7 linked regions of the Homo sapiens genome follow. The protein of the gene in region 6 purifies or fractionates together with the protein of the main gene of each other region. This does not show direct contact. Each region holds a gene or a part of one and is shown on either strand. Other genes may lie near its edges. The genes, in order: ARHGAP29, GPC6, SDC2, TGFBR3, SDC4, GPR183 and OSBPL8.

Region 1 (4,760 bases), on a different chromosome or scaffold from region 6:
ATAAAGTTTCAATTAATTTTTATAGAAACAAAAATAACTCTGGGTTGTTGCAATGTTTTGAAGTGAAAATATAAATTTTTAAAAAACTCTCTAAAATGGTATGTTTCAAAAAGAAAAGTATATGAAGCTGAGGGAAGATTACATAAAACTGAAATCAAAGTTGGATTTCTATTATTGCTCCTCCTGATTATTAAACTGGGGACCACACTTTATAATTTTTAAAGTTTGTTTATTCACTGTCCTTTTGTCAATCTCAAATTATTTCTGAGAATCTAACTTCTACATTTAAACTAGTTTCAAACCTATCTAACATTAATCCTTATATGCATACATCATTTCTAAAATGAATCTAGGGCAATTTTTGAGCATTATTATTATATCTAAGTCTTCCTTCCCATCAACAAAAACAAAACAAAAATTCAAAGTGTCTTTTTTGGGCAGCTCTTTTACAAATCACTAACCAAAATGCCTATTAGCCTAACCAAACATCACTCTTGCAGTTTACTTAATAACGTCATTCTGTTTAGTTATGACAGCTTTTAAACTTGGTAAATTAGAGAATTGGTCACTGTCACTGGTAAAGATGGTTACAAAAATTAAAGACATTAAAACAATTTACCTATTTTAGCAGAAATAATTTACTTTAAGTAACTACATGTAAAATAGTAACCCAAACTTTCAAAGTGTTTCAAAACTGCTGGAACATTTTTAGACAAGACTTAAAAAATCTGCAAAAAACAAACACAGCAACAACAACATCAAACACATGGCAAGGAGAAGAGGAACTCTTTTCCTCTTATAAAAAAGGATTATACCCTATCTCTAGCCAGCATTATAATGATTAATGTGCTGATTTTGTTATATATTACTACTTTTCATATTCCAGAGTAAAAAAAGGAAACATTACAATTGAAAAAACGTTTAAAATAACAAACTTAACCCAAGCTTTCATAAATGAACTATGATAATGAGAAGCTGGAACAATACACACTTTCCAAGATCATATACACTACTTTCTCATGCGCGAAAATGAATATTCTCTTGTTGGAAGTAACATAAAACTTAGTTACTAACAGACTGCAACTGGCAACTTAATTAGGTAATGACGCATGCAAAGTACTTAGCAGAGTGCCTGGTTCATCATAAAGATGAACCATAAAGAAAAGTCATTATTACTAGCAGTGCTTTATTGTGGGAAATTGTTTTTGAACAAGATGTGGCTTCACTACAATACATAAGTGGATTGTGAGCAAGAAATACAGGACTGGAAACAATTGTAGAAACTTAACTGACTCTGTGGAAACCTACTAAAAAGCTTCCAAGTGAAATTTGAACTGTGCAAATAGACTTGTGCAAAATATTTTTGACACACTAATTCTGGTGCATCTCTTTCAACTTCAAACCAACAATATTAAAAACATGTATTATCCACTTCTCAAAGAATTCTCTAGCAAGTAGAAAATTACCGTGCAAAACCACTTCCATTGTATGTTGTAAATCTAAGTGTTGTGTGCATTAGAAATGTAGACACAAACTTCCTATCCCCCACGACTGCAGGAGCCTGTGTCAATCAAATGTCCGCTGCCCCACGCATGCCCCCTGCCAAATGCACATTACGGCAGTAGTTTCATTTTAGGCTCTCTAATTGAAGTGTAAAACTGCCCCCAAACATCTATACTTACTATTTCCCATTCTACCATTTCTTCTTGAGGAAAAATTGCCAGATATTTCAGAAATCTGCTATTTCAGCACAATTTCAGATTTGGCAAGAATCTACTTTGAGATGCTAAAAAGATTAGATGAGCTCATCCTAAAACGATGATTAAATCTTTATGGTTTTAAAAAGCACTCTCCACAAAAACAGAATAGGGACATGTGAGAAAGAGTTTTATCAATACTATGCAAACAATTTTTAAAGGAAGGCATGCAATACACATGCACTTCATTTCTGTACAGTTTGAACCTAGCACGCTTTAAAAAGAGGAAGCTGCCCAGCATCCCACCCCTCCAGAATGTCTAGCATTCCTGGCAGGCAGTACTCTCCTTTGACCAGCCAAAACTACTCTTTGCCAAAGAGCAAGTTCCTCATCCAAGAATTTAAACAAAGAGGGAAGAATGGAGCAACCAAAATGGACAGCCGACGGTGGTAACGACGGACAAAAGATAAACTATAGACAAGAGATACAGTCACAGAGACAGATGGAGAGAAGGGAAGGAGAGCTCAGCTCCTGCCATTAGCAGGTAATATCCTGCCCTCCGAAAACATTTGGGGCCAATACCCTCTGAGAAAGTTTTAAAAAGATAAACATAGAGACAAGAGGCTCGTCAGTCACGAGGGTTCCACCTTGAAACGTCCAACTCCAGCTCACCCGCCCCCCAAAAAATTTTTTTTTTTAATTAAAACTGTCAAACCCCAAAACACGTCCACAATTGAACTGGGACAAACCTCTGAGACTGAGGAAAACTCTCAACGAAACCCAAAAAACACAGACCAGGAGAAAATGCACCACGGAAATCCTAAAATATCTCAGGAATGAGAGCCCAACTGGAGTGAGGGCTGCAGTCAGGGCAGGTGGGAGCGGGAATAGAATCCAGGCAAGAACACAGACCCATAGTGATCAGGAGCACGGATTCCGGAGCAAAAGCGCCTGGGTTTAGGTCCTGACGCTGCCAACCACTAGTCTGTGTGCTTGGGCAGGTTTTTAACCTCGGTTTCCCCGTGTGAACCGAGTCGAACAATCATGGAGTGTTCTGAACATTAAAAGAGTTAAAATGTGCAAAGGCTTCAGAACAGCAGGCGGACCCGTTGTACGCGCTGTGTGCTAACTTTAATTACGATCGTCACCGTCTGCTCCCGGCCACCGCTGGCGTCCTCCCCAGCTCGTCCGCGCCTCCCTCGCCGGGCGCGCCCCTAGCCCCGGCCGGACCCTTCCCGTGGACTCCAGTCCTGGCTCGAGGACACCCGTCCCTAGCGCAGCCTGCCACCGCTTCCACTCGGGGCCGCCCCGCGGGCCTCCCGGACCCTGGACGGCAATTCGCGGGCGCTCGCGCGGGCAACCCCAGCCCGGAGCCACGACCGCCGCGGCCGGAGCAAGCGCCACCTCCTCACACTCACCACGGCGCTCCATCTCGCGTGCCGGACGCGGACGCCCGCCCCACACCTACGGCCGCCGCCACCGCCGAGGGCTGGAGCTCGCTGCCCCCATCCCCCACGGCCTGCGGACGCCCGGCCAAATCTCAGCCGCAGCCGCAGCCGCAGCCACAGCCACAGGCACCACCACCACTGCAGCCGCCACCGCCCCTGCAGCTACCGCCACGGCCGCACCGCCCGCCCGCCAGCCCCGCCCCCTGGAGCCCAGCCCATTGGCCCGCGCTCCCGGGGGCGGGGCCGGCGACCGCGGCAGGTACGGGAGGCAACTAGCTCGCGCGCAGAACGCGACCGTCAGTTGCGCGCGGCCGGACGCTGTCCCAGCATCACGGGCTGCGTCGGCTGCCCTTTTGGCTTGCAGGGGACAGGCAGAGCGACTCAGAGAAAAGTCACCTGAGGACTAGATGCGGCTAATGGCCAGATGAGCAGCTACATTTCTTATGAGACACTTCTGTGGATCGCCTTTTTCCTCCCTCTTCCAGGGGTTAGGGCCTGGGGAAGGGCGCCACACGTCTGAATGAAGAATGAACTACCTCAAAACCAGCCATCTACTCTGCCCCTCTGCCCTCTATGGAGGGTAATAGTTTCCACTTAGGCCTATCTGTATTTTTTTTTTTTTTTTTTTTTTTTTTGGAGACGGAGTCTCGCTCTGTCGCCCAGACGAGTCTAATGGCGTGATCTCGGCTCACTGCAACCTCCGCCTCCCGGGCTCAATTGATTCTCCCACCTCAGCCACCTGAGTAGCTGCGATTATAGGCACCCATTACCACGCCAAGCTAATTTTAGTATTTTTAGTAGAGGCAGGGTTTCGCTATGTTGGCCAAGCTGGTCTCGAATTCCCGACCTCCCGACCTCAGGTGATCCACCCGCCTCAGCCTCCCAAAGTACTGGGATTACAAGCATGAGCCACTGTGCCCGGTCCTTTCTTTCTTAGCTGCACTTTCAAACTCACTTCATAATGAGAAGAAAAAAAAAAGTCTGAGAAAGATGGAATAATTATAGCAAGCAGGGCTAGAAAGCACATAGTCCCTATATCACACCACTCGCTGGAACAAGCGATGGCACTTACCTCAGTGCTGGAACATTCAGAAAGAACTCATAGAGAAACAGAGGAAAAAACACAGGGAGGGAGACTGTGGGTAGCGCTGGGGTCTGCGAGAAAAATGACCACACACGGGAGAAACAGAAAAAGACACAGGAGAATGTGCTGAGGAAAACTGGAAAGAAAATGAGGTGCAGACACAGGAAAAGGGAAGAAAACCAAGGAAGGCAGAAATAAGTGAAGGCAAAAAGAGAAAATAAGGAAGAAAAATAAAAGGAGAGACTACCCACTTAACAAACAGAAAAGTAAGTGAGCATGACAGAACCAAAAGTAGGGTAGCGGGGCAAGAGAAAAACTCATTGACAAAGAAAGAGAAGAGGGACATCTTACATAGACATATCTTTGAACCCTTACAGGAAAAACAATGCTAAGAAAATACAACAAATTTGGCTCCTCAGGTGCTACTTAGAAAAGATAAATAAGAAAACTCAGCTCCTTGGTTACTTTGGCACCATACTGGATTTTTTGGACTCAACTTACACAGATTTTCCCCTCAAATCCCCAAAATAA
Region 2 (4,881 bases), 6.1 Mb from region 6:
CTCATGTAATATCTTTGCCACAAATCCTAAGATCATTTTATAAGTATAGGGACGGTGTGCAATAGTCTAGTGCTATAAAGTTGTATTGAGTGCTCATTCAATACTTAACAATTAGCTGATCTTCAAATAATTTAAAACCACATATACTATGCTTTTACCCATTCTTCCTTTACCTCCATTTAAAATAATGAATTATCTGCTATACTGAGTCAGGGTAAATTACAATGAGTCCCAGGATAAGGTGGTAGGACAGGAAGTGTGTGTTTTTACCCTCTTCCTCTGGAGTGCATAATGCTTTACTATGATACAAAGAGAAGTTTGAAGGAAGTCACGTTGTCAAATATGACAGAAGTAATAACTTGACTGCAATTCCTGAGCCTATCAACCTCACCGTTTGTCCACAAACATAACCAGAATATATTTTATCTTGATTTCCGACTTGAGGGAAAATAAGTTCAGTGATTTAAGATCTGCCAGTTAGCATAAATATTGTGAAAGCAAAAAACTGTGCTAAAATTTTAAGAGAAAAAAAGTTAAGTGTGTTGCGTTTTCAGAAAGATTTAGCTATGGAGTTTTTTTTTTTGTTTTGTTTTGTTTTTTTTTTTTTTGGTTTTGTTTTGTCTTGACCTATGAGTTTGAAGAAGACAAAGTGGCTCTGTAAATAAGTCGACTTCATTTTTAAAGCGTTTGGAAAGGTTAAATGAGGTTGAATCTTGAGAGTCTTTTTGGTGGTTAGGAGAGGGGGAATTTATTAAAGAGAGGAAGACAATGTACCTAATATGTTGTGATGATAATGACAAACTCAAAGATTTAAACTTCATGAGTCATTCTGGTCATTCATATCATCATCAGGAAAACATCTTCATGTGTAGCTTCATAGGTGAGCTCCACAAAACTGTGCATTACCTTGTAGTAGTTTGTGAATAATGTGCTGACCTATGACACATAGCCACGTAAGTGAATAAACACTATTATTATTATTATTTTGTCTTGGTTTTCATTAAACTATCTTAGTAGTTTCAGGAGCTCTGGGTTTCAACACACACTTCTGCCAGCTGACTTTAGTGCGTCCATTAGCATAACAAAGTCAATTAGGCAAACCTGAATTTTCACTTTTATCCCGTTCACAGAACATCAGTGTAAATGGAGACAGGAAGAAGAAATTGGATTGATTCTCCACTTGAGAATTATGTTAACTTGGAAGAAAATGTTAAGTCTACTATGTGAGGGCATCTAGTGAGAGGGAAGGAATCACCTCCCTTCCCCCATTATGTCCCTTTATGCACCTCTGACCCTTGTGCTCTCCTTTTCTTGTTGCTTCTGTGGTCTGGTTGTTAGCTTTCCCGATCCTCCACACATTAGAAACCTAAGCATAATGATTTCTGATCGAAGGCTATGAGATATTTGAAATAAAAAAAGGGGAAATTGTTGAGTCTAGAACCAAACCTTTAAAAATTAAGAACTACCAGTCTGTAATGTGTGCCTTTAGAAAAAAACAAAGTCAAACAGAAATTAGGCAACTAGTTAGAGCCGTGATTGTGCTCTGCCACCCATGAACTCCCGTCTATGACTATTTCCACTCTGGCTTTGTGTTTCAGTAGGTCAGGGACACATATTAAGAGCAACAATTGGAACTGCGTTATCCTTTACCTCCATAAAAATACAGCTTAATAACATGTTAATGACTTAAAATTACCTTGTCTTTCTAGATTGTTTATTGATGTCATTTCAGATCGGTATAAAGGATGTGAAGTGAATAAGAAAATAGGTACGTTTCTTTTTCTTTTTTTCCCCTTTCTACCGACTAGGAAGAGATCCAGTCCAGGTTTTGCCTTTGACTCGGCCTGTGAATTTCGGCTGTGCAATGTGTAGCACGTTTCTTTCTCCCCCCTCCTTTCTCCTTCCCTCTTGCCTCCAGTGACTGTCTCCAGGATTTCTCTCTTCCTATTTCAGGAGGACTCTCACAGGCTCCCACAGCCTGTGTTAAGCTGAGGTTTCCCCTAGATCTCGTATATCCCCAACACATACCTCCACGCACACACATCCCCAAGAACCTCGAGCTCACACCAACAGACACACGCGCGCATACACACTCGCTCTCGCTTGTCCATCTCCCTCCCGGGGGAGCCGGCGCGCGCTCCCACCTTTGCCGCACACTCCGGCGAGCCGAGCCCGCAGCGCTCCAGGATTCTGCGGCTCGGAACTCGGATTGCAGCTCTGAACCCCCATGGTGGTTTTTTAAACACTTCTTTTCCTTCTCTTCCTCGTTTTGATTGCACCGTTTCCATCTGGGGGCTAGAGGAGCAAGGCAGCAGCCTTCCCAGCCAGCCCTTGTTGGCTTGCCATCGTCCATCTGGCTTATAAAAGTTTGCTGAGCGCAGTCCAGAGGGCTGCGCTGCTCGTCCCCTCGGCTGGCAGAAGGGGGTGACGCTGGGCAGCGGCGAGGAGCGCGCCGCTGCCTCTGGCGGGCTTTCGGCTTGAGGGGCAAGGTGAAGAGCGCACCGGCCGTGGGGTTTACCGAGCTGGATTTGTATGTTGCACCATGCCTTCTTGGATCGGGGCTGTGATTCTTCCCCTCTTGGGGCTGCTGCTCTCCCTCCCCGCCGGGGCGGATGTGAAGGCTCGGAGCTGCGGAGAGGTCCGCCAGGCGTACGGTGCCAAGGGATTCAGCCTGGCGGACATCCCCTACCAGGAGATCGCAGGTAAGCGCGGGCGCGCTGCAGGGGCAGGCTGCAGCCCTCGGCTGCCGCACGTCCCACTGGCCGCCCGGCGTCCCCTTCCTTCCCCCTGTTGCTGAGTTGGTGCTCACTTTCTGCCACCGCTATGGGACTCCGCGTCTCCGTGTTGGGCGGCGGATGCTCCTGCGGCTTCTTCGGCGGGGGAAGGTGTGCGTCTCCGCCGCCTCATTGTGTGCACACGCGGGAGCACCCTGGCTCCCGCCTCCCGCTGCTCTCGCGCCCTTCTACCCCTTAGTTGATGGCTCAGGCCCGGCTGGCCAGGGAGCCCGGGTCACTCCGGGGCGGCTGCAAGGCGCAGACGGAGAGCCGAGCCGGGCGCTCACTCCGCGTTCTGGTTCGGGCAAACTTGGAAGAACTGCGACCGCAGTTTGCCCAGCGCCACAGTCTGAGTGGCGCCTTCTCCACTCCCGCCCTTGCGCCGGCAGGGGCGGTGGAGAGACGCGGAGGGCTCCCCCAGCCCCTCTCTCCCCTATCCGTCCTTCGGGCGACAGAGCGCCCGGCGCTCGGGCCGGGGGCGGGCAAGGCTGGGAGGGACCCTCGCCGGGGACCTGGCCTCTGGACGCCGGCGTTTCAAGGCTGGTTTGGGGACTTCACGGGCTGCCTGTTTCAGATGTGGGGCGGGCTTTCCCGTTAGGGTTCCTCAGTGCTTCCCCAGTTGCTGTTGGCCACTCAGGGCCCGGGGACACCCTGCCACCCGGTCTGGAGCCGGCCTCGTCTGCCAGCGAACAGCCAACTTTAGCGGGTGGCTCAGCTGGGGATTCGGGTCCGGGTTCGGGGGCCCCGTGTCCCCCGCATGCCCGGCCACTGGCATTGCTCCACCAAGAGCTTGAGAGCGCCCACCCTTTCTCTCGGCGCCAGTGTGTGTAGCACTTGGTCTCCGACAACTTGCGCGGCAGTCTGGGTGCTTGTTTTCCGGCTCTTAGCTCCAACCGAATCCGAGCTTCTCTGGGGCTCTGTGAATGAAACGTGTCGGGGAGAGATAATCCTTTGGCTGCTAAAGAACAGAACTGAGAGAGGCCGAGGGAGGCCAGGAGATGCTGCGAGGGCGCGGGCTGCTCAAACCGGGCAGCTGAAGTCCTTAGTGACCTCAGATCGTCAAGTCAAAACGCTGAATTTCCACCAGCCTCTGTCTGCTTTTTGCCAAATAACTGGTGGATGGATGAAAAGCATTTTGCAGATATCTTAGAACATCACAGTTTCGATACGTTGAGGAATTACTATTTTCTTATGATTTTCAAGCTGTAGAAGTGAGGGTTTTTACTTACACTGAAATGAACACATTTAAATAAATTTGAGCATTGGCAAAGGGGGAAAAAAAGAGGCGCAAATTACCACGCTCATTATATAGAAGGAGCTTTTTCAGTTCAGAGCCAGACATTCCCTTTGCTGAGTCTAAGTTAGAATCTGTGGTGAATTATAAGCCTACTTTTCTATCCTTGTTACTTCTTCCTTCTTTTCCAGAACTCCTTAATTTGTTAATCAATGAATAGAGAGCGACTGTCCCCACAGCTCCTTAAGTTTCTTAACTCTCCTTCTCCTTTGTCTACTGTTATTTCATTCTTTTTAATTAATTGATAAGGATCAGCTTCGCTTTTTTTTTTCCCTCCCCAAATCTCAGGGAATTCAACTTTTTAAAAGGTTTATAGTATGGATCACTTCTTCTAGGAACTTTTTCTCCTTTAATCTGGGCTTTTTCAAACGGTATCTTTTAAGCACACAAGATATTTCCCAACATGATTTCAGATAAGATGTCTCAAAGAAGAAAATAGTTAGGTATTTTTAAATTGCTTCGGTATTCTTTAGAGGATAATGGGACTCTCAGGAGACTAGAGTTCATCCTCAGCATCAGGCACATCTCTTTAATATCAAAGTGAAGATTTTCAGTGTAAAACAATTTCTGTAGTCACCATGAATGTTTGTTGAGAACATTCCCAGGGGTTCATGTAAATTCTTCGGTGGATATTTAACTAAAGAGGTTTTTGTTTTTGTTTTTGGTTTCCTCCCCACCTTTTTACAATTACAGTGTTTGCTTATTAGCTATGAATTTCTAAAATGTGTGCACTTTTTTTTTTTTAAACTCACCTACTTTCCATGAGTAAGGGCATACTGTTAACTTTGCTTTAAGCCTTGTGTCCTTTGATGC
Region 3 (4,131 bases), on a different chromosome or scaffold from region 6:
TCTTTTTGCGGATTCATTTTGCACATACATTCATACAAGAGTGAAGGTATTTCAGATTAGTTCCATATTACCAAATGGTATCTTCTTAGTCAAGCCTTTGCTTCCATACGATAAAACATTTTGACTTAAAAAATGAATTTTCCACCCAGAGCCGCTTGAGGCTTGTGCACCTCCAGCTGCAGGGCGGCTCCAGTTCTGTGGAGTCCTTCAGTTCCCACACTCTCAGATCCCTGGATTGCACGCTTTGTTCAGCCTGCCGGATCAGAGGCTGAGTCAGAGGAAACTGAAAAGATCAACTCTCTTAAATGACTTTAGGGACTCAATCACATGGTGAAACCATATGATTTGTAATAATAATGGGACAAAGATGATATGGATATGGATGAATTAAACTCAGTCTCTCATATTACAGTAACTACTTAGGTCCATTTCATTTCTCACCAGAACTTGTTTACCTCTCTCCCTAGTCACAAACCTGAGTATTCACCTATTTGAGATTTCTCTTCCCTTTTCTAACTTGTAATAGTAAAGCAGTACTAATGAGCAGTGAAAAGGTCTCTAGACTAGAACCCAGATAATCCATTCTCTGACCTGTTGTCTGTCTTTCCACAAGGCAGCCAATTAATGATGGGCTTTTCATGAGAAGAATAGAAAAATCTCAGCAAAAATACTGCCAATGAGCTGCTCTCTTCTGCTTTACTTTGGTACCTGAAGGCCTGGGAAGGCCTGTCGTATTTCCTTCTCTCATAGTAATAGAAAGGACGGTGACATTTTCAGTGCATATTGTGCACCAGTGAAATGAAATTTCTCTATGGCCTCTGCTTTTTGTAAGTCATGGCAGGTTGAAGTTTAGGTAGTACAGGGTTTCTTGCAATTTGGGAATGACAGTTACTCTTTATTATACTTTATTACATACCACCTTCAGTAGAAGTGTAGCGTTCTGCTCACTGAGACAGGGACCTATTGATCTTACATACCCTAGAGTACAAATGGATCCACCTGGTCTAGCTTATGGTCCTTCCTAGCAATGAGGGTGGCCTTAAGGTGCAGAAAAGAAGTATGATGTGGTCAGGGTCCCACAGGAGCTACTTGCACAGCCCAAGAAGGTGTGAGGTCTTTTCTTCTTACACTCTTTAAGCCTCTAGACTTAACTAGCAGGCCGCCATTTTGGATGAACTCTAGCCTTCAGAAAGCAATCATTTGCTTTGCTGAGCCATGGTATGTTAGACTCTGTGGAGTCCTAATGAAGATGGTAGGAAGCTCTCAGGAACTTAGGAAGAGTAGTAGAGCTGAGAAGGATTATTGTCTGCAGTATTTTTTTTGAGACAGGGTCTCACTCTGTTACCCAGGCTAGAATGCAGTGGCACAATTATAGCTCACCGCAGCCTCCAACTCCTGGGATCAAGAGATCCTCCACAGGTACACAGCACCATGCCTGGCTAATTTTAAAAATTTTTTTGTAGAGACAAGGTCTCAGTATGTTGCCCAGGTTGGTCTCGAATGATCCTCTCACCTTGGGCTCCCTACCCAGCCACCTTTAGCCTTTAAACCTCAATGAAGTTGACAGTGTTTTCATCAGTGATGCTGGCCGACAAGAACTTCAGACTGTTAGAGAATGAACAACTCCTTTGAATGGGACTTCTCTAATCCACTGGTTCTTAAACTATGGAATTGTCTGGAGAACTTAAATAGCAGTAAAAGTCAGTGCCAGCTACATAGTGCCCTGTATAGCTCAGAAGTGAAGGAGTAAGGAGAACTGGGGCAGTGCTGTTGGGTTGGAGCAGTCAGAGGGAGATGGTGACCTGAAGTCAGACCAATTGAAATGGAACCTCTAGTAGTAGGACTGTATTTTTTTTAATGCCTTTCAGGTGATGTGGATCAGCGTAACCTTGGGTGATTCACATAAGATGGCCAGTGATGGTGCTGAGAGTTAGAAAGGCAAGAGATAATTTCTGTGTAAATAATCCTGGGGGTTTAGTGAGGTAAAAGGTCAGAGAAGGCTTCATTAAGGACAAACAGATAGTAAAAGAAGTGCAACATTTGGACTGGGGATAGAACTGCATGAACTAGAGCAGAGTTCCCCACCCGCTTCTGGGGCCACGGACCAGTAGCGGTGGCCTGTTAGGAACCAGGCTGCACAGCAGGAAGTGAGTGAGCATTACCACCTGAGCTCCGCCTCCTGTCAGATCAGTGGAGGCGTGCCATTCCCATAGGATCTAGGAGCGCAAACGCGATTGTGAACTGTGCCTGTTGTGCTCCTTATGAGAGTCTGAGGTGGAATAGTTTCATCCCCCTCCATCCCCCCCACCCTCCCATTCATGGAAAGATTGGGGACCGCTAAACTACAGCACAGATACTAAGAACCATTTTTGATAATGAAGAGGTGGTGGAAATGACCTCACAGGGTTTTCTACTGGGAGTAAGTGGTGGGTTGGGTGAGGACTGGAAGCTACCCAACACCTGCAGTTCTGAGGTCGATGCGGGATGGGAGCTGGGCTGTGATGTGCTGGCCACCTGAACGAAGCTGTGGAAATGAGAACCCAAGGGAAGAAGTTAATGTGAGAGCAAGATGGGAGGCAAATTGACAGTGCTGTGACATGGAAAACATATGATAGAAAATGTGCCGTAATAGATAACTTGGTAACACCCCAAAATACAGTGCCATTAATGGGAATAGAAAAGGAGGTTGATCTGATTCAGCAGTGAATTAATTACTACTTAGACTTGACGAGTAGAGTTAAAGGTGGTACAGCCAACAGTTAATGTCCTGCAGGCTGCTGGCTTGTTGGGAATAATGCTGACTAGAGATGCGGCTGTGAGAGGTATTCCCATAGATTTCTGCTTGAGCATTGTGCAGTGTCCGAGACCCAGTGAGTGTCGTTCATTAGACAGGTGAGGAAATCAAGGTGGAGAAAAGAAGTATGATGTGATCAGGGAGGAGCTACTTGCGCAATCCAAGTCCCTGGAAGTCCTGGTCTAGGGTTTGCTGAAGGTAATATAACTAGGGGGAAGCATTAGGAGTAAGGCTTGGGGATTGCTCCCCACAGAGTGGGGACAGGAAAAGCCCAGTCAGGCGTGAGAGAATATCTGAAAGGGAACTGTTGTCCTAGTGCCCTGTGTAGTTCAGAAGTGAAGGAGCAGGGAGAATTGGGGCAGTGCTGTTGGGTTGGAGCAGTCAGAGGGAGATGGTGACCTGCAGTTAGAAGAGTGGTGAGAAAGTAGAAATCTTAGGAAATGTCCACTAAAACAACCTCACCATGTCCTTAGGATTATTATGAACTCACTAGCTCTCCGACTTGCCTGATCATGCGATGGGTGTTGTGCAAACCATGAACTACATGGGTCCATCATGACACTCACCCATTGCTATAAACATCACACAAGTGATTATTCCAGTTATTTCCTAAACTCATTCTTTGGGGGAAAAAAAAATTTTGGAATATACTCATCTATTATTTCTTCTTTCCAACACATTTCCTTAAATCAATGTAATCTTTCCCTGTTTCCCATACCAGTCACCTGAAGAAACTGATAAAGAGAAAGTTCACCTCTCTGACTCAGAAAGGAAAATGGACCCAGCCGAAGAGGATACAAATGTGTATACTGAGAAACACTCAGACAGTCTGTTTAAACGGACAGAAGTCCTAGCAGGTGAGTAGCCTGGTGGGCCTCAGGTGGGAGGGTGCCTACATAGGCCTCTGTTAGTCTAAGTGATATTCAAAAGTGCAGCAAAGCTTGCTGTCATCTTTCTGCTGAAAGCAGTCTTGTGGGTGCTTGATTCCAGAGCGAGAAGCAAGAGGCTCAGCAAACATTGTCTTTATTGTCTGCCAGCTCCCTCAACCTACCTCTTCGCCAGCCATCGGGCAGGGGATAGGAGGTAGCCTAAAAGAGGGAAAGTTAACATCTGAATTGATCCAGAACAACTGGATGTAGAGAGATGGCAGAGTGTGGAGATCCATCAGTCTTGCTCACAGGCATTCTACATTTCAAAATAAAGAGAACGAAAAGTTCTTTAGGGGAAGGCAGTTCATATAAGTACTGCCCAAAGTGTTAAGAACGTTGTTTCTATTTTAACTTAATTGGATGGAAGTGCAAATATTTTAAAGGGGAAAACTTTCAAGATTTAGGCAC
Region 4 (4,131 bases), on a different chromosome or scaffold from region 6:
ACATAAAAGAACCACCACCACAAAAACCAGACATTAGGCTCCCTGCCCTGCCCCCCGACACCAAAAAATTATCTTCAGCAGGGCACATTAGGATGGCCTGAAGGCATGGTTCTGGGGCTCTTGTTCTAGACCTTCCATTTTAAATATGGTCTCTATCCCTCATAAGCAGTTGTCAGCCTATTAAGTCTTCATCTTTGGCCTGAAAAACTGAAGAATAAAAAATGAAGAATAAGTTCCAAATGACAGTAGCCTCATGCAGAATTTATATCAATGTTGTTTCAAAAACACATTTTGGTTGAGAGAGCAAGACATCAAAATCATTATTCAAGTGGGGAGGAAGAATGCTTGGAAATTTGTGCTGATTCTTAAGCAAGGACTTTGCAAGCAGAGAAAATAAAGCTCAATGTCAGTTAACAAACAAATGTGCTATTTCAAAAGATATAAAATAAGAAATCTAGAAATTTTATATTCCTAGATTTATTTATTATATTTCTATATTTCCTGGACAGAGCCCAGGAAATGAACCCAGATCCTTCTTGTAAGGCCCTTCCAAGCTGTGTTGATTTATTTCAGCTTGACTAGACACTGAACAAATTAGCAACAGCTTGTGTTTTATGACATGCTGCAAAGAAACAATGCTATCATTCCAAGTGTTACTCTGAAGATGCAGAACCAGAGAAGTTACTGCTATGGCTCTTGGTACACTTAATTTTCTTCCTACAGAAATGCCCTCACTCAATCTGCTGAAGGCTCACTATTATGTGTTTAAGGTTAGCTTTTCATATAACCTAGATTCACTCTTAAATTCCAAATTGCTTATATTCCTAGTGGCAATACAAGACTGCTTTTACATTAAAGGCCCCTAAAAACATTTATCTAACTCAAGTTATGCAAATTTCAAAAAAGTTAACATTTTTTAAATTTACAATTGTTTTAAATAAGTTTAAAAATATGGCCGGGCGCGATGGCTCACACCTGTAATCCCAGCACGTTGGGAGGCCAAGACGGCGGATCACGAGGTCAGGAGATTGAGACCATCCTAGCTAACACGGTGAAACCCTGTCTCTACTAAAAATACAAAAATTAGCTGGGCGTGGTGGCGGGCGCCTGTAGTCTCAGCTACTCGGGAGACTGAGGCAAGAGAATGGCGTGAACCAGGGAGGCGGAGCTTGCAGTGAGCCGAGATCGCGCCACTGCACTCCACCCTGGGTGACAGAGCGAGACTCCGTCCCAAAAAAAATAAAAATAAAAATAAAAATATAAGAAAAATGCTCCAGTAGACTGATGGAAATGGCAATAAAATCACTTTTAAGTAACTGTTAAGACTGAAAAAGAAGACTGTCCTTTAGTAGCTAATAAATCTGACAGCCAGGAGCAGTGGCTCATGCCTGTAATCCCAACAATTTGAGAAGATGAGGCAGGAGGATCACTTGAGCCCAGGAGTTCGAGACCAGCCGAGGCAACATAGTAAGACTCTGTCTCAAAATATATACATATTATATATTATACAATATATAGTTATAGATTATATATATGTGAGATTTTACATATATTTACATATTTTATATGAATAAGTATATAAATAAAAATAAAAAATAAATCTGACAATTACAATTTTTATCCAACAGCAATGAAAGCACCACAAAAAGATGTTTCAAAATGAACTATCAAGAAGGGAGGTAATTCAAAATGACCACAGAGCAGAATCATCCAGGCAAAATATTACAGCAAAGTTATTACTTACACAGTCACAGTCTAAACTCTAACTGTTCTGTCTGTTAAGCTTAAAATGTAAAGTCAGGACCTTTCACAGATTTTTGAAGCCAGGAAATTGGTCTTCACTTATATACTAAAGAAGTCAGCAGTGATCACCTTCTTAAAACTCAAAGGACAGTTGAGTTCCCTGGGCTCTTAGGCTCAGATTCTGCCCTCAGAAAAACAAGCACTCACCTGACTTTTACAAGTCACAACCAAGTTTGCATGCAAGAGAGAAAAATTAATTCTTTTGAGTCTTAAAAACAATGGAACAACACTTTCCTTCAAGCCAACGAAAGGCTTTCTGTAAGAAAGCCCTAAGCAACCTGAAGGCATTTTGGCCCCCAGTCATCAGAGCACTGAATAAGGACAATTAATTTGCCAAGCTCCAAGACCAGAAACCATAGCCTAGTAGGGAGTAGGAGGTTATAAGTGTTTGTTGAATTACTCGAGTAAACTAGAGCAAAGCATAGAAGACTAAATGAGATCCTAAATAAATGCCACTCTGTAGTATAAGCGCAATGCTAAGATTTAAAAAGAAGGGACTCAACTAATTTTGAAAGTTATTTTAAAATAGGATCCATGGGACCCTAACGTAGTAAATGAAATAAAGGTAAATCAATACTACATAATATGGGGCCGGGCACAGTCGCTCACGCCTATAATCCCAGCACTTTGGGAGGCCGAGGCGGGTGGATCATGAGGTCAGGAGATCAAGACCATCGGGGCTAACACAGTGAAGCCCCGTCTCTACGAAAAATATAAAAAATTAGTCGGGCGTGGTGGCATGCACCTGTGGTCCCCGCTACTCGGGAGGCTGAGGCAGGAGAATCTCTTGAACCTGGGAGGCGGAGGTTGCAGTGAGCCAAGATCACTCCACTGCACTCCAGCCTGGACGACAGAGCGAAACTTTGTCTCAAAAATAAATAAATAAATAAATAATAAAAAAATACTACATAATACGCAAGAAACAAGAAAGGAAACTGGCCTACAAAACTACAGACAAAAATTGAAAACCTTTTTTTTTTTTTTTTTTGAGACAGAACCTCGCTGTCTGCCAGGCTGGCGTGCAGTGGCACGATCTCAGCTCACTGAAACCTCCACCTCCTGGGCTCAAGGGATCCTCCCACCTCAGCCTCTGGAGTAGCTGTGATTACAGGTGTGCACCACCACGCTCAGCAAATTGTTGTATTTTCTGTAGAGATCAGGTTTCGCCATGTTGGCCAGGCTGGTCTCGAACTCCTGACCTCAAGTGATCCACCTGCCTCGGCCTCCCAACATGCTGGGATTACAGGCGTGAGCCACCACACCCAGCCAAAAACTTTTTTTAAAAGTCAAGTTTGGCCAGGCACCGTGGCTCACGCCTGTAATCCCAGCACTTTGGGAGGCTGAGGTAGGCGGATCACAAGGTCAGGAGATCGAGACCTTCCTGGCTAACACGGTGAAACCCCGTCTCTACTAAAAATACAAAAAAATTAGCCGGGCATGGTGGCGAGTGCCTGTAGTTACAGCTGCTGGGGAGGCTGAGGCAGGAGAATGGCGTGAACCTGGGAGGTGGAGCTTGCAGTGAGCTGAGATTGCACCACTGCACTCCCGCCCGGGCGACAGAGCGAGAGACTCCATCTCAAAAAATAAATAAATAAATAGATAAATGTCAAGTGTGATTTTTTCAAGCATATTCTTATTGTTTATGTTTACAAGTATGAGTATTCATAGACACATCACACTTATACTAGTATCAAATATGATACATCTGAACTACTACTATACTTGAATATTAACGTAAGCCTCTGAGGAATTCACAGTAATAGAACTGCTGTTATTTAGGATTACTGATCCCCTATTGTCTTGCACTTAGAAGATGTTAATGAAAGATGATGACAGGATTGTGAACACACCAACCTCCCTGAGAACAAATTCATTATATTCAGTTTTCTACAAAACACAAATGAGGATCATTACAAAAGGATTCACAACAAATTCCTCTGGATTTCCATTTCTCCCAGGTAAGTTGAAATATTATTCAAACCACACAAAATTAGTTTACATACAAACTTCACTTTTTAAAGAGATGGGGGTCTCACTATGTTACCCAGGCTGGTCTCGAACTCCTTGGCCAAGTGATCCTCCTACCTCAGCCTCCCAAAGTGTTGGAATTACAGGTGTGAGCCACTGTGCCTGGCCTACACACCACTTAAGGAAACAAATTGAAAAAAAACTATATGTGTGTTTATCTATCTGTCCAGCCACCATGGAGTTCTTGACATATATTCAACATACAGGCCCTGTCCTCAAGGTCATTCTTAATCAGTTCAAATTAAATCTAGTCCTCCATTATAAACTCCAAAAGCAACTTAGTTATTTTGCTAGATATTT
Region 5 (4,131 bases), on a different chromosome or scaffold from region 6:
GAATATAATCTATAATAGGTTATCATTTTGCTTCTGAGCCCAGAGACTTTTCAACAACCAATCAGGTCCCTTCAGACTGTGAAAAAAAGATACAGAGATAGTCAGAGACCTGCCCAAGGTCACACAGCTTTGACCACCTGTCCTAAGCAGACAGAGGTAAAGACCATTTTTATTTTCCCCGAAGGTGCAAATGACAGTGACCAGAAACACCTGAAATTCTACTTGGGGACCTGGGTCCCCAGGGACAAAATAAATAAATAAAAATCTAGAAGGTAAAAAGAAACTACACACCAATCCATGGTCTGGTGCTCTGGTGCCTGAATGGTTAAACCAGGTCTGGGGGTGGGGGTGGAGTGAGGGTTCAAATGTCGCCTTCAAGGTCGGGTTACTCTGAACACAATCACTCAGGAGAGAGCCAGGCCTGGCACTGCCTGCAACCAGCTTTTCACCAAGCCTCAGGGCAGCCCATTCCCACAGCAAGAACTCCAGGATCCTAGGGTGCCAGCTAGAAATGGGGGAAGGGTTCAGGAGCCTCTGGATGTCTCCCTGCCAGGAGCTGACCCAGCACCCTTGTTACTAACTCCCTGGATGATCGTGGACAATTCCCTTCTCTGAGCCTCAGTTTTCCAATCTGTAAAAGACAGGTCTCAAAGAGACAAGCCTCCCTCTGTCCCAGCCCAGTAACCAAGCTGGGCATTGCTCCGATTACCGGTGGAGACAGCCAGGAGGGGGCTGGCTCCCTCAGGGCCTCAGAGACAGAGGTGCATTGAAGTTGGAGCTTGTAATCTAGGCAGCAGATCCGAAATCCCTGCTGGATCCGAGGGCTAGGGAGGCTCTCGGGATGTAAACAAACCTCCTGTGTTCTCAGAGCAGAGTAGAGAGCCCACGCTGCAGCCTTATCTCAGCTGATTAGATCAGCCCTGGGTGCTGGCTTCCTGCCTCTTCCCAGCCTCCCTCACCGACCCCCAAGGAAGCCATCCTCCAGACCAGGTCAGTCTGTCCCACAGACGGCTCCGGCAGGGCTTCTCCAAGGCAAGGAGTATCCCCACTCTGGGTAGCCGGGCCAGCCATGTGCCACATCTGCCCCCACGCCCAGAGGCTAGAGTGACACCGCCAGTCCCCGCAGGCCTGGCCACTGACTGCTGGGCTTCACCAAGTCACTGTTTCCACACATACCAGCCTCTCCCTGCCTCCCCTTTCCATTACCCCAGGTGTCACCTGACCAGCAGCCTCTTCTACTGTGCCAGAGAAAACTGGAGCAGCCGAGCTCCCGGGCCTGGAGGACAGGGGGAGGGGTGAGATGCAGCCTGAAGGGGTGGGGGCCGCTGAATAGGAAGGTCTGGGCTGAAGGTGGGGGTTGGGGGAAGCAGGAGGCAAGAACAAGGCTGGGAAGTGGGGGAGGGAGGAAGGATGGCTGTAGAAAGGTCAAAGCCAGAAAGAACTGCTGAGATCAGAGTGACCTTTTGGGGAGTACTGCAGCCCCCTGAAAAGGATAAAAAGGTCTAAACCCCAATAACTGTAACTCTTAGTTTACATTTTCAACATATGCACAGACACCACCTCCCCAAAGCCAAACTCTGGCCGGGTTAAGAACCCTCGTCTAGGTGCTAATAAAGCCAGAACTTTACAAGTTTGCCAAACAGCGATGATGACCTTTGAGTGCCACAGGTGTTTTATAGAGGACACTGGAGTTCACATCAACAAAGTGACGTATTAACTGTGTGTGTCCCTGGGTGAGCAGCAGAGCTAGGACGGGGGCTGGAGTTTTCTGTACCCTCTTTTTCAGTCACCCAGCCTTCAGCAGATGGGACCAGAGAGGCCCCAGTGAGATGCAAGAATGTGCCCAAGGTCACCACTGTGTTAGTTAATGACAAACAAGCCCAAGAAGTCAGGCTTATTCTTCTAAGGTTAAATGAGACCCCAACTGTTGACATATGTGTTCTCTCTCCTCCCTCTCTAGGGCACCATGCAGTGAAAACATACGAGAAACTGGCTTTTCAGAACACTGTACCTTTTCTGTCCACCAACACCCCACCCCTCAAAGTGCTATTTGCAATCACTCAGCCTCCTTAAGGGTAGAAACTCTGCCCCTCCAGCACAGGAGGGTGACCCCAGGTCCTGGACAGTGTCCAGAGTGGTCTGATACCCTTGGCAAACCCCCTGCCCCCTCTCCCTCCAGGCTGCAAACTGTTCAGCATGAGGCTCCAGCAAATCCCAGCAGGAGAGGTGGGGCTGCCCAGAACTGGTTCTTGTTTAAACATAAACCCATTCGATAATTAGCAAACAGCCCACTTCTAAGATAAACAAATAGGAGATTTGGACTCCAAAAGCCCCACCCTAGATTTCTCCCTTCCCACCTCCCAGCTGTGGGGGTAGATAAGGGGGATAAGGGGGATGGAGAAAGCTTTCCAGGAGACCTGGGCTCAGAATCTTCAGAGATAGGACCCCCTGGCATGAAGGTGGCCTGGGCAAGGAAGGGAACTGTCACTAAGTAACACCTCCTCCCTACCAGGCATGGTACTAGGTGCCTTTATTTACAGCCCTGTCGTCTCCTTTAAGCTTCGCCACACCGGTATCATGATCTTCTTAACAGACCAGGAGGCTGGGGCTCAGAGGTGGAGTAGCATGACTGAATTCATGTAGCCAGTAAGAGGTGGACTTCGCACGTCTGGAGTTAAGTCTGTGTAACACCAAGCCAATGTTTCAATGCCCTCTGGCCAGCCCCAGGAAGCAAAGAGGAGTCCTCACAAACATCAGAAAATCCTGGGGTCACACCAAACCTGAACAGTACCAGCTTTTGCTCTCTGAAAAAATGCAGGCCAGTTGCAGCCTCAGTTTTGCCTTAAAGAGGAAAAAAGTACTACCTGCTCTGCAGAGGTCTAAAGCCCAATTTTGAGGACTGGCTGCACAATGTACAATGTCAAAGTCTACATGCAGGCAAGGGGCTGTGAAAGTGCGGGACCTAGTACAAACATGTCCTGTATGTCCCCTCGAGCCCCGGACACTGAAACAGTGACTCCCAAAGGACAAGGTAAAACTCTGAGCTCATTCCAACACCCCCACCACAGAGCTGTCCTATTAGCCAAGAGTTTGAAAGGAAATGGGTGACTCAGGCAGGCTACGCTAGCATGCAGTGACTCACAGCGCTCGGTCCAGCCCCTTACCCCAATTTTAAGCATTCATTTGGAAATCACACTCGCCTGTCCAGTCCGGGAGGTTGAAGGACAGCTAGGAGCCAACTTCTCCCAACAGGGAGATGGGGCTGGGAGCCCAGCCTGGCTTCCCCAGCTCCTCATTCAGGCAGGCTCAGCACTCCAAGTCCTTGGAAAAGCCCTCTGTTTCTAGGAGCTGGGGATGGCAGGAGCTGAATGTCCCCCCGCCACCCCAACTTCTCTTCTGAGACTGGGATTTGTTTAGACTCTTCACCAAGGAGGCCAGCAAAGGGCCCCTCCCCTCATCAATGGGCTCTCTGGGCAGGAAGGACCCTTGGAAGGCAATGGTCCAGCCTCCTTATTTTAGAGTTGGGGACACTGAGACCCAGAGACAGGGCATGTTTGCTCAAGGTCACCCAGCAACGCAGAAGTAGGACCTAAGGTATCTACCTTCAAACCCAGCAAATTTCCTCATCTGGAATATTCTGAGGACACTCAAACCAGACACCTTGCCCTATCAGAAGGACCTGGTTCTGACCTTAGGAAGCCACTGCATTGTTCCGAGCATCAATTTCCTGTAAAAATAGAGAAAATGGTACCTCGCAGTACTGGGAGATACTCATACTAGCAATAAATAACAGTAATGAACCATTTAGAATAAAGTTACATGCACGAATTTATTCATTCATACAAGCATTTCCTGAGTACAAACTAGGGGACAGGTATTTCACAAAAACAAATAGAGCAGAGTTCCTGCCCTCAGTGTGCGGGGGGAGAGAGGGAGGGATTCAGCATTTGGTGGAGTATGTTAATTCCCTCAAGTTAATTCCTTCAAGAGAGAGACCTCTTTTGAATAGTAGGTACTTAAGTTATTAATCAAATTGAGAGATGGAAAGGACTCTGGAGGCTACCCTGTTCAAACCTTTCATTTTAAGGTGGGGGATGTCAGCCCAGCGGGGAAAGAGGCCTCCCCCCAACC
Region 6 (3,992 bases):
AATGACTAACCTATCAACACTGTACAGAATGCATACCTCTAACATAACATGACCACAATCCTCTGCTAACCCTCAGTGTCTATGAACATCTCAGTTTTAAGGTTGTTAGAATGAAGTTAGCTGAGATCCAAGTCATTTAATACAGCAGGGAGAGAAGCAGATTTGCAGACAGTGCTTTTGATCAGGGTAGAGATAGTCTTTAAGGAAATACTGTATAGTTCTTTAAATATACAGTAGCAACATCACTAGATATGCTGAAAGTGCCCCTTAATTTTGGTGACTTCCAGGTGAGATTTATGTACACACAGTTCTATCAGAGGAATTATTTTTCTTTTAAAAATAATCACACAGGATTTATTGCTCTGTTCTTCCTGCTTTAATCAAAGTTTACCCTCATCTACAGAACTTTATTGTAGGAGTTTTCCATTTTTCAATTTAGTACTTAAAATTTCTGCTTTAACATTATTTATAACAAGAAAAGAATTGGAAAGAATCCAAAAGTTCATCAAGGGAGTAGCTAAGCAAATTATGCATTGACACATTGGAAGACTGTAGAATATCTATCAAATGTTTATATAAAATATACACGACAAATATATACATTGCACTGACATGAAGATGTTTGGTGAATAAAGCAAGAAACAAAATATAAAGTGTGATGCTTGCTACTATGTGCAAAGGTAGAAGTATAGATTGCATGGATCCATGGAGTACTTGCAGATTGATAGAGTTTTAAAATTTAATAATTTCCCCTTGAAGTAGCTTAAGTCTTTTTCTCTCTCATTTTCTTTATCTTTCTTCTTTTTTTGTCATTTTAGTCATGGTTGTTGCGGTCGTCGTCTTCTTCTTTTTAAAAAGAAAATCTAACTTTCAGTTCCTAACATGGACTAAGCCTATTTCTCAGACTTTTAGGTTAACACAAATCAGATCACTGTGGTAAGTTCATATTTCACTACATAAATGTGGTGACTGATTTCATTTCCTGGCAGTGATATGCATTTGGTTAAAAAAAAATCCAACTGAAATTAAATTTAAAAGCAAAGCTTAATGCCTGTCTGAAATGTGGGGTGCTTTACTTAACCAGACAATGATTCAAAAAAGGGAAGGGGAATTTCTGCCTAAAAATTTAGTGCATTCCCTTCTGTCACAAAAGTGCGTTTGCCCTATTTAAATGGTTCTGTTTCCTTTGCCAGAGCTTTGCCAAAGTCAGCAAATTGTGAGAGTAAAAACACAAATTTTATTCTGTTCTTCCTGTTATCATATATGTAACCATATTATAATTATAAACTGTTAAAAATTGCATGTCATGAAATTTTAAAACTTAGATATATAAAAGACAGTTTGGATTGCTTTGATACATTATTTAAACTTTTTTAAAACTAATGAGTAATCAAACTGAATACATATGCTTTTACTTATATGATCCTTCTTGGTTTTTTTCTAGACACCTGGACCACCACCAATGGATATACAAATGGCAAACAATTTTACTCCGCCCTCTGCAACTCCTCAGGGAAATGACTGTGACCTCTATGCACATCACAGCACGGCCAGGATAGTAATGCCTCTGCATTACAGCCTCGTCTTCATCATTGGGCTCGTGGGAAACTTACTAGCCTTGGTCGTCATTGTTCAAAACAGGAAAAAAATCAACTCTACCACCCTCTATTCAACAAATTTGGTGATTTCTGATATACTTTTTACCACCGCTTTGCCTACACGAATAGCCTACTATGCAATGGGCTTTGACTGGAGAATCGGAGATGCCTTGTGTAGGATAACTGCGCTAGTGTTTTACATCAACACATATGCAGGTGTGAACTTTATGACCTGCCTGAGTATTGACCGCTTCATTGCTGTGGTGCACCCTCTACGCTACAACAAGATAAAAAGGATTGAACATGCAAAAGGCGTGTGCATATTTGTCTGGATTCTAGTATTTGCTCAGACACTCCCACTCCTCATCAACCCTATGTCAAAGCAGGAGGCTGAAAGGATTACATGCATGGAGTATCCAAACTTTGAAGAAACTAAATCTCTTCCCTGGATTCTGCTTGGGGCATGTTTCATAGGATATGTACTTCCACTTATAATCATTCTCATCTGCTATTCTCAGATCTGCTGCAAACTCTTCAGAACTGCCAAACAAAACCCACTCACTGAGAAATCTGGTGTAAACAAAAAGGCTCTCAACACAATTATTCTTATTATTGTTGTGTTTGTTCTCTGTTTCACACCTTACCATGTTGCAATTATTCAACATATGATTAAGAAGCTTCGTTTCTCTAATTTCCTGGAATGTAGCCAAAGACATTCGTTCCAGATTTCTCTGCACTTTACAGTATGCCTGATGAACTTCAATTGCTGCATGGACCCTTTTATCTACTTCTTTGCATGTAAAGGGTATAAGAGAAAGGTTATGAGGATGCTGAAACGGCAAGTCAGTGTATCGATTTCTAGTGCTGTGAAGTCAGCCCCTGAAGAAAATTCACGTGAAATGACAGAAACGCAGATGATGATACATTCCAAGTCTTCAAATGGAAAGTGAAATGGATTGTATTTTGGTTTATAGTGACGTAAACTGTATGACAAACTTTGCAGGACTTCCCTTATAAAGCAAAATAATTGTTCAGCTTCCAATTAGTATTCTTTTATATTTCTTTCATTGGGCACTTTCCCATCTCCAACTCGGAAGTAAGCCCAAGAGAACAACATAAAGCAAACAACATAAAGCACAATAAAAATGCAAATAAATATTTCATTTTTATTTGTAAACGAATACACCAAAAGGAGGCGCTCTTAATAACTCCCAATGTAAAAAGTTTTGTTTTAATAAAAAATTTAATTATTATTTCTTGCCAACAAATGGCTAGAAAGGACTGAATAGATTATATATTGCCAGATGTTAATACTGTAACATACTTTTTAAATAACATATTTCTTAAATCCAAATTTCTCTCAATGTTAGATTTAATTCCCTCAATAACACCAATGTTTTGTTTTGTTTCGTTCTGGGTCATAAAACTTTGTTAAGGAACTCTTTTGGAATAAAGAGCAGGATGCTGCAAAGTTATGAGTCTGTCCCTCAATGCTCCCTGTCAACTATCAGTGGGAGTGTCAGGGAAAAGATAATTGGCAATAGACTTTGAACTGCAACATTATAAATGATGATGATGATGACTGAGGCAATGAAAGCACTGAGCTTTTCCTGGAGCTGCCAGCACAGTCTTTTAGGGCCTCTGCTTAGCAATATGAAAAAGACTTTATATGGAGGTGCCCATTGGGAGGAGGGTCTGCTTGCTAAATTCATCTTGAGAATAAAAGACATGCCTATATGATTGGTTTTCTTGGGATCACTAGGGGATCATTTCTCTTTTCTTCCCCCAAGCTGTTAGTACTCTACATCTGTATTTCAATGGTTTGAGTTATCAAGTAGGAGAAGGGTGGTGCATGATGAGCAGTGAAAAATATAGCTGCTGCTTGCTAAATACGATCCGAGTAAAATGCAAACTTACAAAATTAAGCATCTTAGGATTCTTTACAATATTATATACTTGCTGAAATGAGTACCTTAGTATGAGTAGCATGACCTTTCCAGGTAGTCAACTGGTCTGCCTGTTCAAATTTGTTTTATCCCCAAAACTACCCCAATGCAGTATTCTCTGTTGGCAATGACACCAATTTTTATAATGGTAGATAAAGAAAATGTTAATTCTGAGTTGTACTTTAAAAATTTTTTTCAGAAAGGGGGTCTCACTCTGTTACACTTTAAATTTTTATTGGACTTTATATCCTGAAAATATTTTATTTAAAGTTCTCATCTTACCCATTTTCAACTTTTACTCTGTATGAAAATTAATCTTAATGGTTGATTCAACACCATTTACTAGTATATTCAGATTTCCATTACATTTATTTCACAAAGAGCCACCTGATTTTAAAGCCATTGTCAAAAATAGGCACTGGTCTTTGTAACATCTTATGCAGACAGG
Region 7 (4,131 bases), on a different chromosome or scaffold from region 6:
TGACTTAAGAACAGAAATGATAGCCTTAGTTATTACCCAACTAATAAATCCTATAGAAGCCAGTCCATCCAGTAACTTTACTTTTGTATCAGAGAATGGAACAGAAGTAGATTCTGCACCACTCCCTTTACCTAGAGTTCTAATGCTTAAATCAGGTTAGAAAACTGTTGCCAGGTAGAAACTAAGAGTCATTAATTAGTCCTGTAATCTTATTTAAACAAAAACGTTCTTTCTTTCTTTTTTTTTAAGGTGCTGGAACAATTGAGAAAGAAAAAAATGAGTAGTTTTGAGCTACAGAAAAGCAAGACGATTTATATTATATTTGACATTCATATACACAAAAACAGAATACTGTCACTTCCACAAATGATAAACTATTTTGCTGAATTAAGATATGACAGAAGGTGACAAAATGACCATATCATTAAGGAATTGAAAAACTACTCTCTGATCCTCATGAAGTTAGCTGTAAAACAGTATACTTACTTCTCTGATTCAAAATCTCCCTGTTCTTCAAATTTTACAGTGTGCCTTATTAATCTCCATTGCTTAATGTCAGGTGTTGGATTCCAGAAAACCTCTGAATTATCAGTCTTTTTATCAGTAATAAAAACTTCACTATCCTATATTTAAAAAAATTCAAAATTAATGTAAAGAATTATACTTAGAAGGCAATTATATAGTATAGTAATATGACGGTGATAATTTCTTCTGGTTAATCCTCCAGTTAAAAGCATTTTTAAAACAAATATAACTAGCACTTTTCCAAAAACTCCAAGTTTCTTATCATTTTTATAAAAACATTAAGATTGACTACGTAATACTAGTTAATTAAAAAGAATTTGGTTGAATATCCAGTTTGTGAAATTTCATAAGTTTTACTTAATAAATTTCAAACATTACATGCAAAGCCTCAATAACCATCTCCAAACTGTCCAAGTAGAGCATAGTATTTGTTGCAGCTACAATGAGATGCTGTTGACTATCCATGGATTCAATATACTCAAACATACACACACACACATCCCTCTGAAAGAGCCTTTACTAGCATTAAAAATTTGAGGTCTATCTCTATCGAATAATCTTTCTATCTAAGACATGGACGGTCTTGCTCTCTTGTGTAGGCTGGAGTGCAGCGGTGCTATCTACCTTATCTATCTAATCTATTTTACCTATCTAATTTATCTACCTGTTTAACCATCCTTCTCCTTCTCTCTCTCTCTGTCATCTCTCACTCTCATCTCTATCTTATCTATCTGTCTGAGACAGGGTCTTGCTTTCTCACCCAGGCTGGAGGGCAGTAGCACAATCATGGCTCACTGCAGCTTCCACCTCCCAGGCTCAAGCAATCTTCCTGCCTTAGCTTCCTGAGTAGCTGGGACAGGCATGTGCCATCATGCCCATCTAATTTTTTTATTTTTATGTTTAGTAGAGAAGAGGTCTTGTTATGTCACCCAGGCTGATCTCAAACTCCTGAGCTTCCCAAAGTGCTGGAATTATAGGTGTGAGCCACCCCACCCAGACAGAAATTTCATTTTTTAAAAATGACTGCTGCTTTATCTTTTTTCCAGAAGACTCTCAGATTTAAGGCAATTAAAAAAAATTTTCAGAGTGTATGTGGCCACTTAACAAAGTCCCTAACTTCACTTTCTCATATTTCTCAACATTTTCTGCTTACTGCATGCAGAAAGGAGCATATACTCAGTGCTCATAGTATGGTATATCCATGCAGTACCATGATTCTTTTTATTCATTTAAGCGTCTCTTAACAAAATTACATAAATATGAATTTAGGTTAGCAGAGAAGTAAATAAAAGCCATTGCTCTCACACACCACTATATCCTTTCCATGTTCCACTGAAAGGAATATAACTCTAATTGGAACTATGCCTCTTTCTTCTATGTGAGTAGAGTGCTGTGCATAAAAGCACAGTCCTGGGGCCAGGGTTCCTGGGCTTTAATTCTTGTTCCACTACCTACTTTGAGCAAATTATGTGAACTCTCTGTGCCTCAGTGTCCTCTTCTGTAAAATGGGGACAATAATAAACAATAATAAAATGGGCATGGCACCTATATACTCACCTCATAGCGTTATATGTTATAAATATTAAATCAGTTAATATGAGTAACATTCTTAAATAATGCAGTAAGTCATATATAAGTGTTAGCTATTTCTACTGATTTTAAGTTTTGGAAATAAAATATTACACAAAATTAACTACTGTTGATAACAGAACACCACCAAAATATCTGCTATTAAGATGAAGCTTATGTTAAATAGTGATGTTTTCAGCAACGGAATAAGTTTTAAATTTTAAATGTGATTTTTTTTTTCCCACAGAATAAAATTCTTTTTGTAAAGCTCATATACAAAATACTTACCCAATGACCTTCCAAAGTAGCTAGGACTTCTTTTCCCAGTTTAAGTTTCCCTGATATTTGATTAACACAGTCACTACTCCCTAGGAATGGCTTTTAAACGAGAAAATGTTAAACATTTTACTTTTCACTTATATTTACATATAATGTAAAACCAAAACAAAAAACCCAACAAAAATTGCTTGTATAGTTACAGTACTATTGAATGCACAAGCAGTAAAAAAATACTGACTCAAATTTTAGTTAGAAATGTTTAATAAGAAATCTGAATTGCTGCTATGAAAAAAATAGGATAAAACAAGCAGACTATATTAAATCAAAATAAACATATTAAGAAAGATCACCCTGATATAACTGACTCATGTTCCATGTATGCTCAAATCCTGTGTCCTCCCCTGTCAAGACTGTGCCCTATCAATGTGACGTTATCTTAAGCAATAACAACTCAATAAACCTAATGGAATTAACGATCCATTGAAATAAATAACACCCCTTCCTTAAAAAACAAACAAACAAAAGTAAAATATATAGCCAAAAAAAGCCTCCAAAAAATAAAATTAGAAGGAATACACTGAGTTACTATAATGCCTTACTAACATCTCTCCTTAGAGACAAAATTTTGATGCTCCAATGTCATACTTAAAGGCATCATATATACTTAAGAACTCATTCATCATGATCTTCAAACATTATCATCACCATACAAGGAAAATTTTGCCAAGGTGAAAGAAAAATAAAATAAAAGACATTGCATCAAATAATACTTAAGAGGTCTTTTTTATCAGAGCAAAATTGCTTATCAGCTGGATATCAACATAGCAGCAATTTAGTAATAAATATTACTAGTTTACAGAAATATTTTTATCTGAATATACTATTGTTCAAGAACAATTAATTCACATTAAGTTCTCAAATTTCCCTTTCATTTTGAGGCAGACAAAAATTTCCAAAGATGGCCTTGACAATACGTACCCTCTCCCCTTCAGCCCACATACTCTTCCTCAAGGAGACCTTGCCACTCTCCCAATGAGAAGTGGGGTCTATATTTCTTCTCCTTGAATTTGGGTGGTCTTACAATTCTCCAAATAATAGAAGATGGTGGAAGTGATATAATTTGGCTTCTCAGGCTAGGTCATGGAAAGGAAATGCAGTTTCTGTCTTGCTCACTGGGGCACTTGCACTTTGAAACCCTCAACTGCCAAGTAAGAAGTCTACTTTGAGGCTGTCATGCTGTCAGGAAATCAAGTCACATGGAAAGGCCATGTATACAGGTGCTCAGATTAGCAGTTCTAGTCCTTCGGTCACCCTAGACCAGGTATCAGATATGTAAGTGATAAGCCTTCAGGTGATTACAGTCCCTAACTATTGAGTCACCCATGGCCTACAAAGTCTTTCTGAGACCCCAGACATTATGAAGCAGAGATAAGCTATCCCCAGTATACCCTGTCCAAATTTTTGACTCACAGAACTCATGAGGAACAGCACATAGTTATTAAGTCTGTGAGTTTTAGAGTAACTTATTACACAGAAATAGTGACTAATACAACTGTGCCTTGGTTTACACAGCTAGACTGCAAGATGACACATATCTTCTGGTATTTGGTAAAAACAATCCTTTAATTTACTAAGAAATTTCTATCCAATCACTTCTTAAATCTCATCTTCTATATAATACCCACAGTTTTATTAATTAAGATGAAAAACAAAAAATGTCTTTTGTGTTAATTTGAATTTTCCAAGGCTGCTATCTTA

The links.
Region 1: the proteins of GPR183 (region 6) and ARHGAP29 purify together in Homo sapiens (affinity purification with mass spectrometry; 3 studies listed by BioGRID and IntAct, with this or other methods). This does not show direct contact.
Region 2: the proteins of GPR183 (region 6) and GPC6 purify together in Homo sapiens (affinity purification with mass spectrometry; 3 studies listed by BioGRID and IntAct, with this or other methods). This does not show direct contact.
Region 3: the proteins of GPR183 (region 6) and SDC2 purify together in Homo sapiens (affinity purification with mass spectrometry; 3 studies listed by BioGRID and IntAct, with this or other methods). This does not show direct contact.
Region 4: the proteins of GPR183 (region 6) and TGFBR3 purify together in Homo sapiens (affinity purification with mass spectrometry; 3 studies listed by BioGRID and IntAct, with this or other methods). This does not show direct contact.
Region 5: the proteins of GPR183 (region 6) and SDC4 purify together in Homo sapiens (affinity purification with mass spectrometry; 2 studies listed by BioGRID and IntAct, with this or other methods). This does not show direct contact.
Region 7: the proteins of GPR183 (region 6) and OSBPL8 purify together in Homo sapiens (affinity purification with mass spectrometry; 3 studies listed by BioGRID and IntAct, with this or other methods). This does not show direct contact.

Annotation. Positions count from the first base shown.
Region 1 is NC_000001.11:94,234,300-94,239,059, forward strand, and holds the start of ARHGAP29 (rho GTPase-activating protein 29), read right to left. Parts: upstream 3,286-4,760; 5' UTR 3,129-3,285; coding exon of another isoform or gene 3,116-3,128; intron 1-3,115. UniProt on the Homo sapiens protein: GTPase activator for the Rho-type GTPases by converting them to an inactive GDP-bound state. Has strong activity toward RHOA, and weaker activity toward RAC1 and CDC42. May act as a specific effector of RAP2A to regulate Rho.
Region 2 is NC_000013.11:93,224,915-93,229,795, forward strand, and holds the start of GPC6 (glypican-6 precursor), read left to right. Parts: upstream 1-1,892; 5' UTR 1,893-2,542; coding exon 2,543-2,702; intron 2,703-4,881. UniProt on the Homo sapiens protein: Cell surface proteoglycan that bears heparan sulfate. Putative cell surface coreceptor for growth factors, extracellular matrix proteins, proteases and anti-proteases. Enhances migration and invasion of cancer cells through WNT5A signaling.
Region 3 is NC_000008.11:96,604,820-96,608,950, forward strand, and holds part of SDC2 (syndecan-2 precursor), read left to right. Parts: intron 1-3,515; coding exon 3,516-3,651; intron 3,652-4,131. UniProt on the Homo sapiens protein: Cell surface proteoglycan which regulates dendritic arbor morphogenesis.
Region 4 is NC_000001.11:91,879,366-91,883,496, forward strand, and holds part of TGFBR3 (transforming growth factor beta receptor type 3 isoform a precursor), read right to left. Parts: intron 1-4,131. UniProt on the Homo sapiens protein: Cell surface receptor that regulates diverse cellular processes including cell proliferation, differentiation, migration, and apoptosis.
Region 5 is NC_000020.11:45,341,305-45,345,435, forward strand, and holds part of SDC4 (syndecan-4 precursor), read right to left. Parts: intron 1-4,131. UniProt on the Homo sapiens protein: Cell surface proteoglycan which regulates exosome biogenesis in concert with SDCBP and PDCD6IP.
Region 6 is NC_000013.11:99,293,616-99,297,607, reverse strand, and holds the end of GPR183 (G-protein coupled receptor 183), read left to right. Parts: intron 1-1,444; 5' UTR 1,445-1,462; coding exon 1,463-2,548; 3' UTR 2,549-3,069; downstream 3,070-3,992. UniProt on the Homo sapiens protein: G-protein coupled receptor expressed in lymphocytes that acts as a chemotactic receptor for B-cells, T-cells, splenic dendritic cells, monocytes/macrophages and astrocytes.
Region 7 is NC_000012.12:76,370,962-76,375,092, forward strand, and holds part of OSBPL8 (oxysterol-binding protein-related protein 8), read right to left. Parts: intron 2,473-4,131; coding exon 2,383-2,472; intron 624-2,382; coding exon 487-623; intron 1-486. UniProt on the Homo sapiens protein: Lipid transporter involved in lipid countertransport between the endoplasmic reticulum and the plasma membrane: specifically exchanges phosphatidylserine with phosphatidylinositol 4-phosphate (PI4P), delivering phosphatidylserine to the plasma membrane in exchange for PI4P, which is degraded by the SAC1/SACM1L phosphatase in the endoplasmic reticulum.